Homo sapiens: one gene and its partners. The protein of the gene in region 1 purifies or fractionates together with the protein of each later gene. This does not show direct contact. Each region holds a gene or a part of one and is shown on either strand. Other genes may lie near its edges.

What was found.
Region 2: the proteins of RBL2 (region 1) and FBXO11 purify together in Homo sapiens (co-immunoprecipitation; one large-scale study listed by IntAct). This does not show direct contact.
Region 3: the proteins of RBL2 (region 1) and CCNE2 purify together in Homo sapiens (co-immunoprecipitation; one large-scale study listed by IntAct). This does not show direct contact.
Region 4: the proteins of RBL2 (region 1) and RBBP9 purify together in Homo sapiens (affinity purification with western blotting, with the first as the bait; one study listed by BioGRID). This does not show direct contact.
Region 5: the proteins of RBL2 (region 1) and TMLHE purify together in Homo sapiens (co-immunoprecipitation; one large-scale study listed by IntAct). This does not show direct contact.
Region 6: the proteins of RBL2 (region 1) and SERPINB2 purify together in Homo sapiens (affinity purification with western blotting; one study listed by BioGRID). This does not show direct contact.

Annotation. Positions count from the first base shown.
Region 1 is NC_000016.10:53,468,971-53,472,470, forward strand, and holds part of RBL2 (retinoblastoma-like protein 2), read left to right. Parts: intron 1-945; coding exon 946-1,215; intron 1,216-1,412; coding exon 1,413-1,693; intron 1,694-1,775; coding exon 1,776-1,952; intron 1,953-3,500. UniProt on the Homo sapiens protein: Key regulator of entry into cell division. Directly involved in heterochromatin formation by maintaining overall chromatin structure and, in particular, that of constitutive heterochromatin by stabilizing histone methylation.
Region 2 is NC_000002.12:47,809,460-47,812,498, forward strand, and holds part of FBXO11 (F-box only protein 11), read right to left. Parts: intron 968-3,039; coding exon 857-967; intron 643-856; exon of another isoform or gene 540-642; intron 249-539; coding exon 141-248; intron 1-140. UniProt on the Homo sapiens protein: Substrate recognition component of a SCF (SKP1-CUL1-F-box protein) E3 ubiquitin-protein ligase complex which mediates the ubiquitination and subsequent proteasomal degradation of target proteins, such as DTL/CDT2, BCL6, SNAI1 and PRDM1/BLIMP1.
Region 3 is NC_000008.11:94,888,702-94,892,201, forward strand, and holds part of CCNE2 (G1/S-specific cyclin-E2), read right to left. Parts: intron 1,850-3,500; coding exon 1,714-1,849; intron 1-1,713. UniProt on the Homo sapiens protein: Essential for the control of the cell cycle at the late G1 and early S phase.
Region 4 is NC_000020.11:18,490,726-18,494,225, reverse strand, and holds part of RBBP9 (serine hydrolase RBBP9), read left to right. Parts: intron 1-162; coding exon 163-268; intron 269-3,500.
Region 5 is NC_000023.11:155,515,453-155,518,952, forward strand, and holds part of TMLHE (trimethyllysine dioxygenase, mitochondrial isoform 1 precursor), read right to left. Parts: intron 1-3,500. UniProt on the Homo sapiens protein: Converts trimethyllysine (TML) into hydroxytrimethyllysine (HTML).
Region 6 is NC_000018.10:63,901,047-63,904,388, forward strand, and holds the end of SERPINB2 (plasminogen activator inhibitor 2), read left to right. Parts: intron 1-693; coding exon 694-836; intron 837-1,357; coding exon 1,358-1,522; intron 1,523-1,854; coding exon 1,855-2,259; 3' UTR 2,260-2,842; downstream 2,843-3,342. UniProt on the Homo sapiens protein: Inhibits urokinase-type plasminogen activator. The monocyte derived PAI-2 is distinct from the endothelial cell-derived PAI-1.

The DNA of each region.
Region 1 (3,500 bases):
TGTAATACCAGCATTTTGGGAGGCCAAGGCGGGTGGATCACCTGAGGTCAGGAGTTCGAGACCAGCCTGGCCAACATGGTGAGACCTCATCTCTACTAAAAATACAAAAATTAGCCATGCCTTGTGGCATATGCCTCTAATCCCAGTTACTTGGGAGGCTGAGGCACAAGAATCACTTAAACCCAGGAGGCAGAGGTTGTAGTGAGCCGAGATCAGGCTACTGCACTCCAGCCTGGGTGATAGAGTAAGACTCTGTCTCAAAAAATAAAAAAAATAGTAACAATTTGCCCCAAACCATTGAATTGTATAATTTAAGTAGATGAAATTTATGGTATATAAACTGTTTTAAAAAAATAAATTATGCTTAACTGAATCCAAATCATGCATGTCCACCTTGCTTAAGAACATTATTGAGTTTTAATAATTTTTTATATGTGGAAAAAGACAGAGATCAAAATTGATAAAACCGGTGGCGGAATGCTCCTAGATGACATACTACCAATCAGGTCCCCTTATCAAGTAGTGGCTCTGTAGTAAAATCACATCTTACATGAGTGGTAGGTAGAAAGTGGATATGATAGAAAATATTATAGAAAAATATAATATAGAAAAATAGGGTAATTCCTTAAATTGCCCCTAAATCATGAAGGTTCTTTAGTAGTGGAAGACAGAGTCAGGTCTGATTTGGGAAAGGGGGCGTGGAGAAAGGAACACTGCAAGACAAAAAATTCCGTTTTAAAATTTTGCTCTCAGTAGTGTTCACTGAACACGAATGAAAGTTCACTAATGAATATAGGTAAGATATGACTTCTGTAATTCTTGTTTGCTTTTTGAATTATGAAGTATTTCAAACACTGTAGTTATTTTTTAACATAAGAGCTTGGACGGAAGTCAGATCTGAGTCTCCTTGAGTTAAATGCTTTGTTTGATTTGTTTTGACCCTAGGCATAACATCTCCAACCACATTATACGATAGGTACAGCTCCCCACCAGCCAGCACTACCAGAAGGCGGCTATTTGTTGAGAATGATAGCCCCTCTGATGGAGGGACGCCTGGGCGCATGCCCCCACAGCCCCTAGTCAATGCTGTCCCTGTGCAGAATGTATCTGGGGAGACTGTTTCTGTCACACCAGTTCCTGGACAGACTTTGGTCACCATGGCAACCGCCACTGTCACAGCCAACAATGGGCAAACGGTAACCATTCCTGTGCAAGGTAAGGAAGGCAGAGTTGGATATTGAGTTCCTTCTCTGTGGCATGTATTGAAAAGTTACCCGAGGTTTGGCTAGAGTGACATAGGGGACAGAGGAGTGATGGGGAGAGAGGGTTTGGGAGAGCAGAAATTGTAAACCTCTGCCCGGAGAACCTCTTATTATCAACATTTTCTTCATGCTTTTTTTCTCTGTCACTAGGTATTGCCAATGAAAATGGAGGGATAACATTCTTCCCTGTCCAAGTCAATGTTGGGGGGCAGGCACAAGCTGTGACAGGCTCCATCCAGCCCCTCAGTGCTCAGGCCCTGGCTGGAAGTCTGAGCTCTCAACAGGTGACAGGAACAACTTTGCAAGTCCCTGGTCAAGTGGCCATTCAACAGATTTCCCCAGGTGGCCAACAGCAGAAGCAAGGCCAGTCTGTAACCAGCAGTAGTAATAGACCCAGGAAGACCAGCTCTTTATCGCTTTTCTTTAGAAAGGTAATTTTTCACATACCTTATCAGAGCATGAGCTTGGGAAATACAAGTGTTAAACAAAGTTTGAAATGTTTTTATCTCCTAGGTATACCATTTAGCAGCTGTCCGCCTTCGGGATCTCTGTGCCAAACTAGATATTTCAGATGAATTGAGGAAAAAAATCTGGACCTGCTTTGAATTCTCCATAATTCAGTGTCCTGAACTTATGATGGACAGACATCTGGACCAGTTATTAATGTGTGCCATTTATGTGATGGCAAAGGTGAGTACCATTTGGAATTGTAAAGGCAAAGATAGGTCTTCATTACTGAGAACATTTTTTAACCACTGTCTTGAGATACAGTTTACATGCTCTATAATTCACCTATTTAAAATGCACAACTAAATGGGTCTTAGTATATTCACAGATATGTGCAATACTCACCACAATTTTAGAACATAATATTCCATTGTATAGTTATATGAGAGTATTTTTATCCATTTATTAGCTAATGTATATTTTAGTTGTTTCTACTTTTGGCATATATGCATAATACCACTATTAGCATTTGTGTTTGGGTTTTTGTATAGACATGTATTTTCATTTCTCTAGGGTATATACCTAGGAATGGGCTGCTGGGTCATACATTAACTGTGTTTTAACTATTTAGGGAATTGCTAGATTGTTTTCCAAAGTACTGTACCATTTTACACTTACACAGCAGTATAATAAAGATTTTAGTTTCTCCACTATCTCATTAACACTTACTATCTTACTTTGTTTAAATAACTTATTGAGGAGAAATTCACATAACATAAAATTAATTGGGTTTTTCTTTTTTTTTTTGAGATGTTGTTTCATTCTTGTCACCCAGGCTGGAGTGCAGTGGTGCATCTCAGCTCACTGCAACCTCTGCCTCCCAGGTTCAAGCGATTCTCCTGTCGTAGCCTCCCGAGTAGCTGGGATTACAGCCATGTGCCACCATGCCTGGCTAATTTTTGCATTTTTAGTAGAGATGGGGTTTGACCATGTTGGCCAGGCAGGTCTCAAACTCCTGACCTCAGGTGATCTGCCCACCTCGGCCTCCCAAAGTGCTGGGATTACAGGCATGAGCCACTGGGCCCAGCCAAATTAACTATTTTAAGTTGAACAATTTAGGAGCATTTAGCACATTTACAGTACTAAGTGTAATAAATGGTTGTATACTCACCACCTCTGTCTAGTTCCAGAACATTTCCGTACCTGCAAAGTAAAACTCCTTTCCTATTAAGTAGTTTCTCCCCATTCTACCTCCCACAGCACCTGGCAACCAGCAGTTGGCATTCTGGCTGTATGGATTTATCTGTTCTTAATCGTTTATAGAAATGGTACAATATGTGACCTCTTGTGTATGGCTCCTTTTACTTAGGATAATATTTTCCAGGTTTACCCATGTTGCAGCATGTATCAGTACTTCATTCCTTTTTATGACTGAATGATATTCCATTGTATGGATAGGCACAATTTTTTTCTCCACTCATACACTGATGGATATTTGGGCTGTTTCCAACTGTTGGCTATAGTGAATAGCACTGTTGTGAACAGGTATATCATGTACCTGTTTGAGTGCCCATTTTCAGTCCTTTTGAGTTTATTCCTAGGAGTGGAACTGCAGGGTCATATGGTGATACTATGTTTAACTTTTTTGAAGAACCACCGTACCATTTTCCACAGAAGCTGCACCATTTGACATTGCTACCAGTAATGCACAAGAGTTCCAGTTTCTCCACATCCTTGCCAACTTATTATTTTTATTATAGCCATCTTAGCGGGTATTGGGTGATATATCAT
Region 2 (3,039 bases), on another chromosome or scaffold:
AAAGCTCTGTTTCTTTCAAAATCTATCTTAAACTGTTGCTAACTTGGAGAGTGACATAAGGAATCAAGTTATAAAACGGCTTCTGATTATCTTTCATGGCATATTGCATATATTTATAGGTATAGCAGACTCCAACATACCTTTCATTGTCACATTAACACCAGATGCTAAAAATAAGCCTCCAAACCGGTTGTTAAAAATCTGATTGCCTTCTAGTGTTGCAGTTGCGTGATTTGTAATTTCAATACCTGAAGTAAAATTTACAAACAAGTAGATACATCACTTTATACTGCTTCTTAAAAACCTGAAATTAGCAAGCAAATGTAAACTGCTTCTTTTATAGAAGTACATTAACCCTCTTAATGTCTACTGAATAAAATGTAGATACCTATTTCAACCACCAACAGTAACATTCACTTATCAATGACTATGGTCAAAACTGCAATTAACTTTCGCACCAACCTAACTGTCTTAAAGTTTAAATACATGATACTTGGATTTCATTTGCATCCATTTTAACATCTCTTTTTCTGTTGCAGATTTAAACTGGTAAATTCATCTGAGGAATTGAATCTATCTGTATTCCTAGTGGTAATACAAGCCTGCATTTATTCTATCCCAATAAATGTTTCATAATCACGACTAAGCAATAAGAGCAATATTTCTTAGGAGTCTGGCTTAGAGTAGAAGAATCCAGAACTTGATTAGGTGCTCTTGTAAGTGAATGAACAGGCATTCAGCCACTTCAGCACACTTTGCACATTTTAGTTAATAAGCAAAACAAAATGAATATACTCCACATCAAACACTTTGCAGAACTATATATAAGCCACAGGTAAGAAAAGAAAATACAAACCTGCGGCAAATCCATCAAATATTCTGTTTTTCCTTAAGATTGGATGACTATTAGTGCTGATGAGAACACCTGCTTGAGCATTCCTGAAAATATCATTTTCTTCAAGGAGACCTATAATAAAATATTTCCTTAGATTAAGGCTAATGCATATAACAGACTACTAACCTTTTTGGTGGTATTTAGGTTTGCTTTTAGTTTCTTATTTAACTGCATGGTAAAATTCACAGGACTATTTTTTCAGCCAAAACAAGTTTATTAGCAATTCAGAGGTATTAAGGATCTAACAAAATTGCTACAATGACAGGTAAGAGCATTCTGACCAATAATCTGCCATCTCCATGATAGCAGGGTCCATGTCTAAGTTTACTCAGCACTTCATCTTCAGAGCCAGGTGCATAGGTGATTCTCAATGAGTATTGCTGAATTAAAGCTAATTCCTTTGAAATATTTCTAGAACCTTTGTATCCTCTTTGTTTTTAGTTCAGGCAAGCAAGCCCTTATTTCTGGCCCTTATTACTATAATCATTTCCTGATGAGTTTCCTTTATTCCAGTTTCATCTGCTGCATAGTTTCCAATCAGTTAACTGCAACTCTTATCATGCCTCTTTCTCTAACAAACTACTTTCAGAATAAAGTTTAATATCACCTTGCCTTTCAAAATATCCCTCCAACCTACTTGTTTGTCTTAATGTGAGACATGGTTTTATTTCTGTAGACATTTAATCCCTCTGGTATTTCACATTATTGACCTAAACTTTCACCTGGATGAGTGGGAAAAATCTGACTCAGTAACTTCTTGGGGTCCTCCTCCTGTTCACTCCCTGGGTATTAATATTTCTGGGTTCTGTCCCTCATTTCCCTCTGCATACTCTTTGGGTGATCTTACATCTTGCAACTATTGCATATACACTGTTGCTTTTTAATTTTTGAGACAGAGTCTCACTCTGCCACCCAGGCTGGAGTGCAATGGTGTGATCTTGGCTCACTGCAACCCCTGCCTCCGGGTTCAAGCAATTCTCCTGCTTCAGCCTCCCAAGCAGCTGGGATTACAAGCACCTGCCACCACACCTGGCTAATTTTTGTATTTTTAGGTTTCACCATGTTGGCCAGGCTGGTCTCAAACTCCTGACCTCAAATGATCCACCCACCTGGGCCTCCCCCAAAGTGCTGGGGTTACAGGCATGAGCCACTGCACCCGGCCACTGTTGCTAATTCTTTAATCTATTCCTTTAGCTTAGTATAATGAATCACATTCTGGTCATAACCAATTTGGATATTCCAGAAGACAACCTTGGATTCAGTGTTTAAAAACTGACCTTACTAATGTTTTCCAGAAACCATTTCCTATATAACTTACCTCAGTGAAAGGTAGTCACCCACCCAAATCAGAATCCTGAGCACCCATCATATTTCACTTTACTTTCAACCCCCATATTAAATCAATGACCCAGTCCTGTTGGTTCCACCCTTTTTATAGAGATACGGTCTTACTACATTGCCTAGGCTGGTTTCCAACTCCAGACTCAAGTGATACTCCTGCCTTAGCCTCCAGAGCAGCTGGAAGTACAGGTGTGAGCCACTGTGCCCAGTTGGTTCTGTCCTTTTAAGTATCATTAACATGTCCCACCCCCTGCCCCCCCAACCTTTTCACACCCTTATGCTATCATTTTAGTTTAGGCTCTCATTATTTATTGCCTGAGTTATTCCAAGTCCCTGTCTCTAATCTTGATTATTTCCACTACACCTCAAGTGCTATTGCTAAGATGGATTCCAAACTCCTTACTGCATATGGAAAACCTCATGATTTGGGCCTTGCCCCTTCTGTAGCCTCAATTTTCTGTACCTCTTCCCTTACTTTCAGTTTCCTCTAGACTTTTGTTTACGATGTGCTCCACTCCATCACACTATACATTTTATGGATGTGCTGTTTCATTTAGCATATCTCTAGCATCTGTATCATAGTAGTTGGTACAGAGGTGTTAAATCAGTATCTAAAGAATAAAAGTGAAATAACATCTGGAATGGTCTGTTCGCCTCTCCCAAACCCAATTGCCAGTAAATATCTACTCATTTTTCAAAACACGGCTCAAAAGTGATTTGACTTGCGTGAACCATTTCTCAACACCTTGCAAATAAACCATTCTGTATTGTGTGTCTTCACTATATTTTGTGAAAACTATCTG
Region 3 (3,500 bases), on another chromosome or scaffold:
TTTTAGTAGAGATGGGATTTTGCCATGTTGGCCAGGCTGGTCTCAAACTCCTGGCTTCAACTGATCTGCCTGCCTCAGTCTCCCAAAGTGCTGGCATTACAGGTATGAGCCATCACACCTGGCCACATGAGTTTCTAATAATGAGTTAAGAAAATCTCTTTTGCTGGCCGAGTGCGGTGGCTCACATCTGTAATCCCAGCACTTTGGGAGGCCAAGGCGGGCGGATCACTTGAGGTCAGGAGTTCAAGACCAGCTTGGCCAATAGGGTGAAACCGCATCTCTATTAAAAATACAAAATATAGCAGGTGTGGTGGCCTGCGCCTGTAATCCCAGCTATGTGGGTGGCTGAGACAAGAGAGTCGCTTGAACGCGAGATGCAGAGGTTGCAGTGAGCTGAGATCGTGCCATTCCATTCTGGCCTGGGTGACAACAGCGAGGCTCCGTCTCAAAAAAAAAAAAAAGAATGTCGAATTTCAAAAAATGTCTTTTGCATCTATTGAGATCTTAGCATTTTTCTTATTTACTGTTAAGGTAATAAATTAATAGATTTTCAAATGTTGAATCAAGTTTGCATTCCTAGACTGAAGAATACACTAAGATAGAGTTTAACACTGCTGGATTTGATATATTCTGTATGCTGTTGCATACATAATCATATTTAGGTAAAAACAGGAACAAATTGAATTGGATAACCACTGGATGAATATCAGTATAACAAAAAGGAAACAAATTAAAAATTAACATAATTGTGCTTAAGTTGATTCCATGATCACTAGACAGTCAGAAAAAGTCAAAACCCAATGCCTTCTTGTGCCCACAATTAAAATACAATCTTTCCTTCTAGTCAGAATAAGGAAAAAGATGACCTGATGCAAAAGGATAACATTTTAGTCTTAAAAACTGTTCTGATAGCTTCTGAGATCTATTCTGCCATGTGTTCCTCCTCCAAAAAGTCTATGGTCTTTTTCCCTTAGAATGCTTCATCTCTTGTCTTAAAGACAGACTACAGAGCAAATATCCAAGAGTTGGAGGAAAAATCAGTTTGTCATCAACATAAGTAATGATTTCCTTAATAATAATTTTAGAAACTTTTTTAGAGCTATTATCCAGAGGAAAGGGAATGGACCTAAACAAGAGAGAAAAATCTGGCACAAATCTATAGGGGCTTCAGGATCACTATTCCTTTAAATTAATGGTATATTTCGGAAAAGAATAGAAGAATATAATAAAGAGAAGGTATCTGGACAATAGAGGGCGTAGAGCTTCCAGATATCCATAGTCTCATTATGGTTTAGGATATAGAAATCAGGATTCCTCATCATCATGATTTTGTTAATACAGAAAAAGACTTCAGAGGGCCCTGAAGCCTAGTTCTAGTTCTTCACTTTGTATAGCATAATTCAAAACCTAATCAACTATACATTCCATTCACCTTGAGTATCTGTGGCACCCAGAAAGTGGTTGGTACACAGCAGTATCCACAGGTAACAGGAATTCTGAATTGGGTTTAGTTATATGTAGTAGCTTTGTCATGGTTTTACTCTTATAGAGTCACTTTCCACTTTGGGTGCAATCAACTACAGTAAGTACCTCAAAAAAGACAGCTTCCTGGGGATGAACAATAAACTCTTGAGAGTACATAGAAAGCACATTTACAGCTAAATATGTTTCCATCATACAGAGACAAAGGAAATTTGTATTGCTGTAACATACCTCTAAAAGCCAGTCTAGAAGTATGGACCTCATCTGTGGTTCCAAGTCAGAATGCAGAACTTCAAAATGTTTGTCATGAACATATCTGCTCTCCTTTTTTAACATGTTTAGCCAGACTTCTTTTGAACATCCCCAGCTATGGAAAGAGAGGAAAAAAACCATATATATATATATATATTTTTTTTTTTTTTTTTTTGAGACAGAGTCTCGCTCTGTGGCCCAGGCTAGAGTGCAGCGGCACAATCTTGGCTCACTGTAATCTCCACCTCCTGGGTTCAAGCGATTCTTGTGCCTCAGCCTCCCAAGTAGCTGGGAGTTACAGGTGCCTGCCACCAAGCCTGGCTAGTTTTTGTATTTTTAGTAGAGATGGGGTTTCACCATGTTGGCTGGGCTAGTCTCGAACTCCTGGCCTCAAGTGATCGACCTGCCTCAGCCTCTCAAAGTGCTGGGATTACAGGCGTGACCCACCATGCCCGGCTAAAAAACATAATTTAAATTGTGCAATCCATGTAATATACAAACTCTGTTTCACATAGATAAAATTCAACTTTCAGACATTGAAATGCAACTTTTAATTAGAACTTGGAAGAAGCTCTTAAAGTAAATAAGAAAAAAAACTTCTGCCTTAATTTTTGGAAACAATTTCCTTTGCATGAATAAATAGAAGCCTGAAGTAACACAGTGGGAACCTGGACTATGATCATCCAAACCTGCAGATTTCAAGGGAGTGCTTTCTAGTTCCACTTATTTATACTTTACAAAGGTTGCTGTTAAAAGATAACCACGTTGCTTTTCCCATAAGTGGTCTGAAGTAATCTGTGAAAATAGCTGGCTATTCACTTTACCTGGAAAACCCCACAAAATCATGCAAATCAAGAGGTTCAAATCTTTGTGTTCACTGTAAGAACACTCGTGAAACTGCCCAGGCTATCAAGGGTATGCATATATGAAAAACCACAAAGTGGCCGGCACAGTGGCTCACACCTGTAATCCCTGCACTTTGGGAGGCCAAGGTGGGTGGATCACTTAAGGTCAGGAGTTCGAGACCAGCCTGGCCAACATGGTGAAACCCCGTCTCCACTAAAAATACAAAAAATTAGCTGGGCGTGGTGGCATGCTTGTAATCCCAGCTACTCAGGAGGCTGAGGCAGGAGAATCACTTGCACCCAGGAGGTGGAGGTTGCAGTGAGCCGAGATCGTGCCACTGCACTCCAGCCTGGGCAACAACAGCAAACCTCTGTCTCCAAAAAAAAAAAAAAAAAAAAACACCATGAAGTATTTTTAAAATGTCACTTTACAGAAACAGCATGTGCCATTCTGACATTACAATGGTGGAGTTGGTAGGTGTACCCAGGCCAAGCAGTGGGACTGGACACAAGGTTGGTGGCCCAAAAAGAGTGCTGAATTTTTGCTGCACATGCTTAAAAATGCAGAGAGTAATGCTGAACTTAAGAGTTTAGATGTAGATTCTCTGGTCATTGAGCATCTCCAAGTGAACAAAGCACCTACGATGTGCCAACGGACCTACAGAGCTCATGGTCGGATTAACTCACACGTGATCTCTCCCTGCCACATCGAAATGATCTTTAGTGAAAAGGAACAAATTGTTCCTAAACCAGAAGAGGCGGTTGCCCAGAAGAAAAAGATATCCCAGAAGAAACTGAAGAAACAAAAACTTATGGCACAGGAGTAAATTCAGCACTAAAATAAATGCAATTAAAAGTGAAAAAAAATGTTTTCTCAAGAGCAATACAAAAAAGTTAAACACATAAGGCATGTGATCACAG
Region 4 (3,500 bases), on another chromosome or scaffold:
ATAAATCTTTGGTTTTGTTAATACAGTCTGGTCTCCTGCTGTGGTCCTGCAGTTTTAAAAGTTGTGAACTGCTGAATAGTTGCCTGTTTGAAAGGTGGGGCAGCGTTGGATTCAGACTGCCACTATCAAATGACAGACTTTTTCTTTACCCTGAACCTTAAGTTACAGCACGAGAGAGCATCTGGCTGCCCTTCATGGAGACAGAGCTGCACTGTGATGAGAAGACTATCATCATTGGCCACAGTTCTGGGGCCATCGCGGCCATGAGGTGCGATCTTTGTTAAACTGCTATCCCCTTTGTGGGCTCCAGTCATGCTTGCTTGAGAAATACCTTGCGTATATCTTAAATTTCTGTTGCAGAGGAAACAGTGCTGACCTCTAAAGTGGTAACATAATCTGTCCTAATTCCTTCCTGGTTTTGCTAGTGGATTGAAAGAAAACAAAAAATCTGCTCTTATTGAGATGCAGTGATCCTTTTAAAGCATAAGTGGCTGCAAACCCCAGTAGCTTCCCATCAGTCAGCTCTGATTCTGTCTCTACAGACTCTCCTTCTCTCCTCCCAGCCAGGTTTACTGACCTCATTGCAGTTCCTGGAACATGCCAAGTACATGCACATCTTAGCCTGCTCTCATCCTTCTACCTGGGATACTCTGGCCCTAGACACTGCATGGCTTTCTATTCCCCTTGAAGTGTCTGCTCAAATGTCCCCTTTTGGTGAAGCCTTCTCTAATCACTCCATATGAAATGGCTTCCTCACTCTACTGGCTCCTATCTCTTTTATATCTTATTATCTGCAGCACTTTTTACCATCTGACATCCTGTTTATTTCTTGTCTGTCTCCTGCCAATAGAATGTAGACTCCATGAAGGCAGGGCTTTGTTCACTCTGGCACTGAAACCCCATTGCCTAGAAGAGAGCCTGGCATATGGTAGATTGTGTCTGCAGTGTTACTCACCTGCGAATCCCCAGTCCTTAGGATTCGTATGCACATCCCTACTGCTCTCATTAGAATATTACATCTCCCCTTTTAGCCTTATAAGGCCTAGTGGGTAGGGACTTAGCTGGCTGAATAAGCTAAGTTTAGCCTATAAGGGTTGAGTTTCTTTCATATTTGCTAGGCAAAATGACAAAGGATAATAGTTTTTATTTGTCCCAAGCAGTCACTTAGGCTGTCACATGAATTGCATGTCAGGGAATCTTGCCAAATTTCATAACCTTTCAGCCACACTGATTAAAGTTACAAGAGTATTTCAGGATGGAACCACAAAATTATGGTACACTCCCAGTGTAAGAATGTTATATGCTGCCAGGGGTTGTCTGGAAAAGGAAGAGCTCCTTGTATTATTGAATTCTGTTCCAACTCAAGGCCAACTGCATTTTTCTCAAGCCATTGATTAGTAAAGGTGTGCCTGCTTTTAAAGATCCTTGAACTCACTGCAGGATTCTTAGCAACCTTCTAAGAATTGACTTCTAAAGTTAAGGGAGGCAAGGAGAAAAATGGATGCCAAAACGATTGGGTTAAGGTTGTAGAATTTCCTATTGACAAAATCATAGAGGACTACCCTACAGATGACTCTAATCATGAAAGGGAAATCGTGCCTTTCCAATGGAGAAATCAGGTGGATATCACTTTAAGCAAATGATCAAACTTAATCTCACCAATAATAGACTGGCATCATGTGTCCCCTGATGTAATGGCATGGGAAGGACACAGCATCACCTATGCAGTATCCTTGCCAGAAATGTTTACCTCAGTCTAGTTAGGAGGAAACAGACAATCCTATTTAGAGGATAATGTACAAGACAACTGGCCTACACTCTTAAACAATGTTAATGTCATTTAAAACAAAAAAATTTTAAAGTGACTGAAGAGCCATGAAAATAAAATGCAATGCATAATCCTTGACTAGATCTAGGATTGCAGAATGTTTTAAAGGACATTTTTGGTACAGTTGGGGAAAAATGAATACAGATAATATTGCTGTATCAATGTGAAATTTATTGGGTGTAATAGTGGTACCATGGTTAAGGGAGTGGCTTTCTCAGGAGATACATGCTAAAGTACGGGTGAAATGTGACAAAATTAATGAATCTAGGTGCTTGTTCTTTTTTTTTTTTTTTTTTTTTTTGAGACAGAGCCTCCCTCTGTTGCCCGGGCTGGAGTGCAGTGGCACAATATCGGCTCACTGCAACCTCTGCCTCCCAGGTTCAAGCAATTCTCCTGTCTTAGCCTCCCGAGTAGCTGAGACTACAGGCGCCTGCCACCACACCTGGCTAATTTTTGTATTTTTAGTAGAGACGGGGCTTCACCATATTGGTCAGGCTGGTCTTGAACTCCTGACCTCAGGTGATCTGCCTGCCTTGGCCTCACAAAGTGCTGGGATTACAGGTGTGAGCCACCGTGCCCGGCCTAGGTGCTTGTTCTTTCAACGTTTCTGTAGGTTTGATATTTTTCAAAATAAATGGGGAAAAAAGTTCAGGCCCAAGAACAAAATACCAACCCTAACTCTTTCTTGGCACAAAGGCCCCTTGAAATTATTACTACTATGTGTCTTTCCTTATCCCAGTCTTTGCTGAGGGAGACTGCTCTCTGCAAATATAACTGTGGTTTTTGCCAATAAAGGAGACTCACTCTACTGGCTCCTATCCTCTTTATATCTTATTATCTGTAGTACTTTTCACCTAGATCTAGTCAATCCTAGATCTAGTCAAGGATTATGCATTGCATCTGACATCCTGTTTATTTCTTGTCTGTCTCCTGCTTACTTTTAATGGCAAAAACTGCAATTACTTTTGTACCAACCTAAGAGTTAGCTGGGTGTCTACTTGCCAGGCACTGTAATGGGCACCAGGAACACAAAGATCAATAGGACTCATGCCTGCCTTTAAGGAGCTGACAATTTATTGAGAGAAATGTACATAAGACAACACAAATGAATAATATAAGGCAATGTGGAGTGTGTGGTAACAAAGGTACATTTCTGGTATTATACAGTGTTTCTTAAAATACAGTTCACAGACCACTTGCATTAGAGTCATCTGGGTTGAAGGAGGGATCACGCCTTAAAATGCAGATTCTAGGCCTTAATGCCAACTTTCTGAATCAGAGACTCTGGGTCTGAGCCTGAGAATCTGCATGTTCACCAACCAAGTGACACTGATGCATACTAAACGTGGATGGATTACACATTTTTTGTTTATTGGGAAAGGTTTGTACAAGTTTCAACTACCTTGAAAAATGGGTAGTGGCTGGGCGTGGTGGCTCACGCCTGTAATCCCAGCACTTTAGGAGGCCGGGGTGAGTGGATTATTTGAGGTCAGGAGTTCAAGACCAGCCTGGCCAACATGGTGAAACCCCGTCTCTACTAAAAATACAAAATTAGCTGGGCGTGGTGGTGCATGCCTGTTATCCCAGCTACTCAGGAGGCTAAAACAGGAGAATTGTTTGAACCCAGGAGGTGGAGGTTGCAGTGAGCCAAGATTGTGCCACTGCACTCCAG
Region 5 (3,500 bases), on another chromosome or scaffold:
TATAATTTAGAAATAGAATGTATATTACATTTCTTAAAAGTTCGTATCTTTGTATTTAGAAATTTCAAAGATATAAACTTTTAAGAGTTCTGATATACATAATCAAATTACTTTTTAGAAAGTCTACTTATCTTCATTCCCTCCAACAGTACATATGTGTCCATCAAAATGGAGTATTCTTATTTTTAAAATATATTTTTTTCTAATTTGGTAACTAAAGTGGAACTGCTATCTTGTAATAATTTTAACTTATTTGCTTACTAAGGCTAATAAGAATACTTTCTATATTTGTTAGACATCTATGTTTCTTTAATGCAGGGACTACCAAACTATGGTTGATGAGTCAAATCTGGTGCTTGGTTTTGTAATGCCTGTTTCAGAACACATGCTGTCCATGTTGTTACATATTGTCTATAGCTCCATTCACTCATATAGCCCACAAAGTTTGAAAATATTTACCATCTGGCTCTTTATAGAAAATGTTTGCTGACTCCTGCTTTAATGATTTGTCTGTTCAGTCCTTTCTCACATTTTTCTATTGGAACAATTGTACTTTTCTTCTTTTTTTTTTTTTTTTATTATACTCTAAGTTTTAGGGTACATGTGCACATTGTGCAGGTTAGTTACCTATGTATACATGTGCCATGCTGGTGCGCTGCACCCACTAATGTGTCATCTAGCATTAGGTATATCTCCCAATGCTATCCCTCCCCCCTCCCCCGACCCCACCACAGTCCCCAGAGTGTGATATTCCCCTTCCTGTGTCCATGTGATCTCATTGTTCAATTCCCACCTATGAGTGAGAATATGCGGTGTTTGGTTTTTTGTTCTTGCGATAGTTTACTGAGAATGATGGTTTCCAATTTCATCCATGTCCCTACAAAGGATATGAACTCATCATTTTTTATGGCTGCATAGTATTCCATGGTGTATATGTGCCACATTTTCTTAATCCAGTCTATCATTGTTGGACATTTGGGTTGGTTCCAAGTCTTTGCTATTGTGAATAGTGCCGCAATAAACATACGTGTGCATGTGTCTTTATAGCAGCATGATTTATAGCCCTTTGGGTATATACCCAGTAATGGGATGGCTGGGTCAAATGGTATTTCTAGTTCTAGATCCCTGAGGAATCGCCACACTGACTTCCACAATGGTTGAACTAGTTTACAGTCCCACCAACAGTGTAAAAGTGTTCCTATTTCTCCACATCCTCTCCAGCACCTGTTGTTTCCTGACTTTTTAATGATTGCCATTCTAACTGGTGTGAGATGATATCTCATAGTGGTTTTGATTTGCATTTCTCTGATGGCCAGTGATGATGAGCATTTCTTCATGTGTTTTTTGGCTGCATAAATGTCTTCTTTTGAGAAGTGTCTGTTCATGTCCTTTGCCCACTTTTTGATGGGGTTGTTTGTTTTTTTCTTGTAAATTTGTTGGAGTTCATTGTAGATTCTGGATATTAGCCCTTTGTCAGATGAGTAGGTTGCGAAAATTTTCTCCCATGTTGTAGGTTGCCTGTTCACTCTGATGGTAGTTTCTTTTGCTGTGCAGAAGCTCTTTAGTTGAATTAGATCCCATTTGTCAATTTTGGCTTTGGTTGCCATTGCTTTTGGTGTTTTGGACATGAAGTCCTTGCCCATGCCTATGTCCTGAATGGTAATGCCTAGGTTTTCTTCTAGGGTTTTTATGGTTTTAGGTCTAACATTTAAATCTTTAATCCATCTTGAATTGATTTTTGTATAAGGTGTAAGGAAGGGATCCAGTTTCAGCTTTCTACATATGGCTAGCCAGTTTTCCCAGCACCATTTATTAAATAGGGAATCCTTTCCCCATTGCTTGTTTTTCTCAGGTTTGTCAAAGATCAGATAGTTGTAGATATGCGGCATTATTTCTGAGGGCTCTGTTCTGTTCCATTGATCTATATCTCTGTTTTGGTACCAGTACCATGCTGTTTTGGTTACTGTAGCCTTGTAGTATAGTTTGAAGTCAGGTAGTGTGATGCCTCCAGCTTTGTTCTTTTGGCTTAGGATTGACTTGGCAATGCGGGCTCTTTTTTGGTTCCATATGAACTTTAAAGTAGTTTTTTCCAATTCTGTGAAGAAAGTCATTGGTAGCTTGATGGGGATGGCATTGAATCTGTAAATTACCTTGGGCAGTATGGCCATTTTCACGATATTGATTCTTCCTACCCATGAGCATGGAATGTTCTTCCATTTGTTTGTGTCCTCTTTTATTTCCTTGAGCGGTGGTTTGTAGTTCTCCTTGAAGAGGTCCTTCACATCCCTTGTAAGTTGGATTCCTAGGTATTTTATTCTCTTTGAAGCAATTGTGAATGGGAGTTCACCCATGATTTGGCTCTCTGTTTGTCTGTTGTTGGTGTATAAGAATGCTTGTGATTTTTGTACATTGATTTTGTATCCTGAGACTTTGCTGAAGTTGCTTATCAGCTTAAGGAGATTTTGGGCTGAGACGATGGGGTTTTCTAGATAAACAATCATGTCGTCTGCAAACAGGGACAATTTGACTTCCTCTTTTCCTAATTGAATACCCTTTATTTCCTTCTCCTGCCTGATTGCCCTGGCCAGAACTTCCAACACTATGTTGAATAGGAGCGGTGAGAGAGGGCATCCCTGTCTTGTGCCAGTTTTCAAAGGGAATGCTTCCAGTTTTTGCCCATTCAGTATGATATTGGCTGTGGGTTTGTCATAGATAGCTCTTATTATTTTGAAATACGTCCCATCAATACCTAATTTATTGAGAGTTTTTAGCATGAAGGGTTGTTGAATTTTGTCAAAGGCTTTTTCTGCATCTATTGAGATAATCATGTGGTTTTTGTCTTTGGCTCTGTTTATATGCTGGATTACATTTATTGATTTGTGTATATTGAACCAGCCTTGCATCCCAGGGATGAAGCCCACTTGCTCATGGTGGAAAAGCTTTTTGATGTGCTGCTGGATTCGGTTTGCCAGTATTTTATTGAGGATTTTTGCATCAATGTTCATCAAGGATATTGGTCTAAAATTCTCTTTTTTGGTTGTGTCTCTGCCCGGCTTTGGTATCAGGATGATGCTGGCTTCATAAAATGAGTTAGGGAGGACTCCCTCTTTTTCTATTGATTGGAATAGTTTCAGAAGGAATGGTACCAGTTCCTCCTTGTACCTCTGGTAGAATTCTGCTGTGAATCCATCTGGTCCTGGACTCTTTTCGGTTGGTAAGCTATTGATTATTGCCACAATTTCAGAGCCTGTTATTGGTCTATTCAGAGATTCAACTTCTTCCTGGTTTAGTCTTGGGAGAGTGTATGTGTCGAGGAATGTATCCATTTCTTCTAGATTTTCTAGTTTATTTGCGTAGAGGTGTTTGTAGTATTCTCTGATGGTAGTTTGTATTTCTGTGGGATTGGTGGTGATATCCCCTTTATCATTTTTTATTGTGTCTATTTGATTCTTCTCTCTTTTTTTCTTTATTAGTCTTGCTAGCGGTCTATCAATTTTGTT
Region 6 (3,342 bases), on another chromosome or scaffold:
AACCAATTTCATTTTTTTAAATGACCACACTCATTTGTCATTGTTTCTGTCAATCTTCTCGGGCTTACTCCTTCACTCCCTTCTCTGTATGATCATAGTACTCAATATATTATTTAGCTCAATTACAGAAGTTATCACACAGGGTTTCACAACTGATTTTGAATGTCTCCCCCAGTGTTCTAGGCTCATCCAGGATAATTCTTCCTTTCTCATCTCTTGTATCTGCACTACTCTTAATTTAGGTCTAGTATATTTTTTACAAAACGTTTTTGAATAAATGAGTAAGTCAGATCCTCAGACTATCTAGACCAGATCTAGCAGTACATGATATATTTTGGAAAGGCACTATTATATTCCCTAAGAACCTCTCTTTCACTTCCCTCTGATTTGAATAACTTTCAACTGCCAAGCTTTGAGAAAAGAATATAAAAGGGAGTGAAAATCTCCATTCCAAACTTGATAGGCGGTCTAAATTTTAAATGCATTATTTCTTCATTTTTTCTTGGATTTTGCAAGCTTTTGGGAAATTTGTTTCAATTTTAATTTTGCTTTAAATAAACCTAAAAAACTTTAGCTTGAAGATTAACAACTCTGCAATTTGAAGAATTTAGTTTGATGGCTACTCAGAAGATTCAGTAAGTAATTTCACAGTTCTTGATTATGAAACCTAAATATATGTTATGTTTTCTGTAGGCAAAATCCCAAACTTGTTACCTGAAGGTTCTGTAGATGGGGATACCAGGATGGTCCTGGTGAATGCTGTCTACTTCAAAGGAAAGTGGAAAACTCCATTTGAGAAGAAACTAAATGGGCTTTATCCTTTCCGTGTAAACTCGGTATGAGACAACAAAATACATCTTCCTAGCATATATTTTAGGGCTTTTGACAAGATATAGACAGAAAAATTAGAGACCGCTCATTATAGACTTGCTAGTTAGAAGTTATGCATGTTGGACAGTTGATTGACTCTTTAGAAACAGTATAGGTAAAGGGGAAGACTGTGGCTTTTTAATTATACATGCCCAGACTCCAACGTTGGCTCTACCACTTATTTCAAAGGGCTGTAAATATTGAGACATGGCACGGTTCCTGGCCCATAGTAAGAACTAAACAAGTGTTTTAGAATTATGGTTGTCATTACCATTGTTGTCCATCTTACTAAATAATGGGTATAAAGTTGAACAAGCTAATAACATCAGAGTACCCACTGTAAGGATGTACAAATAATTTATTTTGTTGATTTAAAAAAATCACATTTATCCTACACTAAAGTAGAACCAATCCTCCTTTATGTCTAATTGTAAATCTCTTGATATCTTATAATCGACTTCCATATTTTACCTTTTAATAATATTAGGCTCAGCGCACACCTGTACAGATGATGTACTTGCGTGAAAAGCTAAACATTGGATACATAGAAGACCTAAAGGCTCAGATTCTAGAACTCCCATATGCTGGAGATGTTAGCATGTTCTTGTTGCTTCCAGATGAAATTGCCGATGTGTCCACTGGCTTGGAGCTGGTAAGACATTCAGATATTTAAGTTTCTGGGGCTATACCTACCTTTCGTGAGATGAGATGAATATATACTCCTTACAAATGGTGTGGTAATTTCTCATGGAAATATATGAAACAGTTGATAGTAAATATGGCATGCCTCTACATTTCATTCAAAGCCTTAACTATGTCATACGTGTTACCTTCTTGTAAAAATCTGACCAATCTGTTAACTTTCTATATCACCCACAATATAGTAAAGTCACTGATTTTTAATATTAGACTTAAAGTTGTTTTCCTTCTTTCTAATACTTGCTGTATTTTCTTTTGTTTGTTTTGTTTTGTTTTGCTTTGCAGCTGGAAAGTGAAATAACCTATGACAAACTCAACAAGTGGACCAGCAAAGACAAAATGGCTGAAGATGAAGTTGAGGTATACATACCCCAGTTCAAATTAGAAGAGCATTATGAACTCAGATCCATTCTGAGAAGCATGGGCATGGAGGACGCCTTCAACAAGGGACGGGCCAATTTCTCAGGGATGTCGGAGAGGAATGACCTGTTTCTTTCTGAAGTGTTCCACCAAGCCATGGTGGATGTGAATGAGGAGGGCACTGAAGCAGCCGCTGGCACAGGAGGTGTTATGACAGGGAGAACTGGACATGGAGGCCCACAGTTTGTGGCAGATCATCCTTTTCTTTTTCTTATTATGCATAAGATAACCAACTGCATTTTATTTTTCGGCAGATTTTCCTCACCCTAAAACTAAGCGTGCTGCTTCTGCAAAAGATTTTTGTAGATGAGCTGTGTGCCTCAGAATTGCTATTTCAAATTGCCAAAAATTTAGAGATGTTTTCTACATATTTCTGCTCTTCTGAACAACTTCTGCTACCCACTAAATAAAAACACAGAAATAATTAGACAATTGTCTATTATAACATGACAACCCTATTAATCATTTGGTCTTCTAAAATGGGATCATGCCCATTTAGATTTTCCTTACTATCAGTTTATTTTTATAACATTAACTTTTACTTTGTTATTTATTATTTTATATAATGGTGAGTTTTTAAATTATTGCTCACTGCCTATTTAATGTAGCTAATAAAGTTATAGAAGCAGATGATCTGTTAATTTCCTATCTAATAAATGCCTTTAATTGTTCTCATAATGAAGAATAAGTAGGTATCCCTCCATGCCCTTCTGTAATAAATATCTGGAAAAAACATTAAACAATAGGCAAATATATGTTATGTGCATTTCTAGAAATACATAACACATATATATGTCTGTATCTTATATTCAATTGCAAGTATATAATAAATAAACCTGCTTCCAAACAACAATACATTTGTTGTCATTTCATTAGGTCTGCAGATCATAGACCTTGACTCCTAGGAGTTGAGCATTATGACTCACTTGTGAGAACTCAGAAAAAATAGACAGGATGAAGGAGCCAAGGACATAACAACCTTCATTCAAAAAGACCCAATGTTGAGGGTCAGTGGGATGGGGTTGTATGAAAAATGGGTTAGAGCTGCTTTCTCACAGCAGCAAAGACATAGCAATTCAGAATAGTCTAGGTTAGAGTCCTTTGGGGAAACCACTGTCTAAACATTAAGGACACCAGGATTAATGACCAAGTCCAGTGGTCCAGACACAGAAGAAGGCCTCAGTCATTGAGCTCAGAGTTGCAAGCAGTGAAGATGGGAGATGGGTTGGGTGCAAGAGCAGGAGGGGAAACATAAGATGGCTCTTTCTAAGTGTGTTTGTTTCTAATAGCAGTAATGCTTTTGAATGAGTCAGAGGCAGAGGAGAACATAATTGAAGACCTGAGAAATAAGGC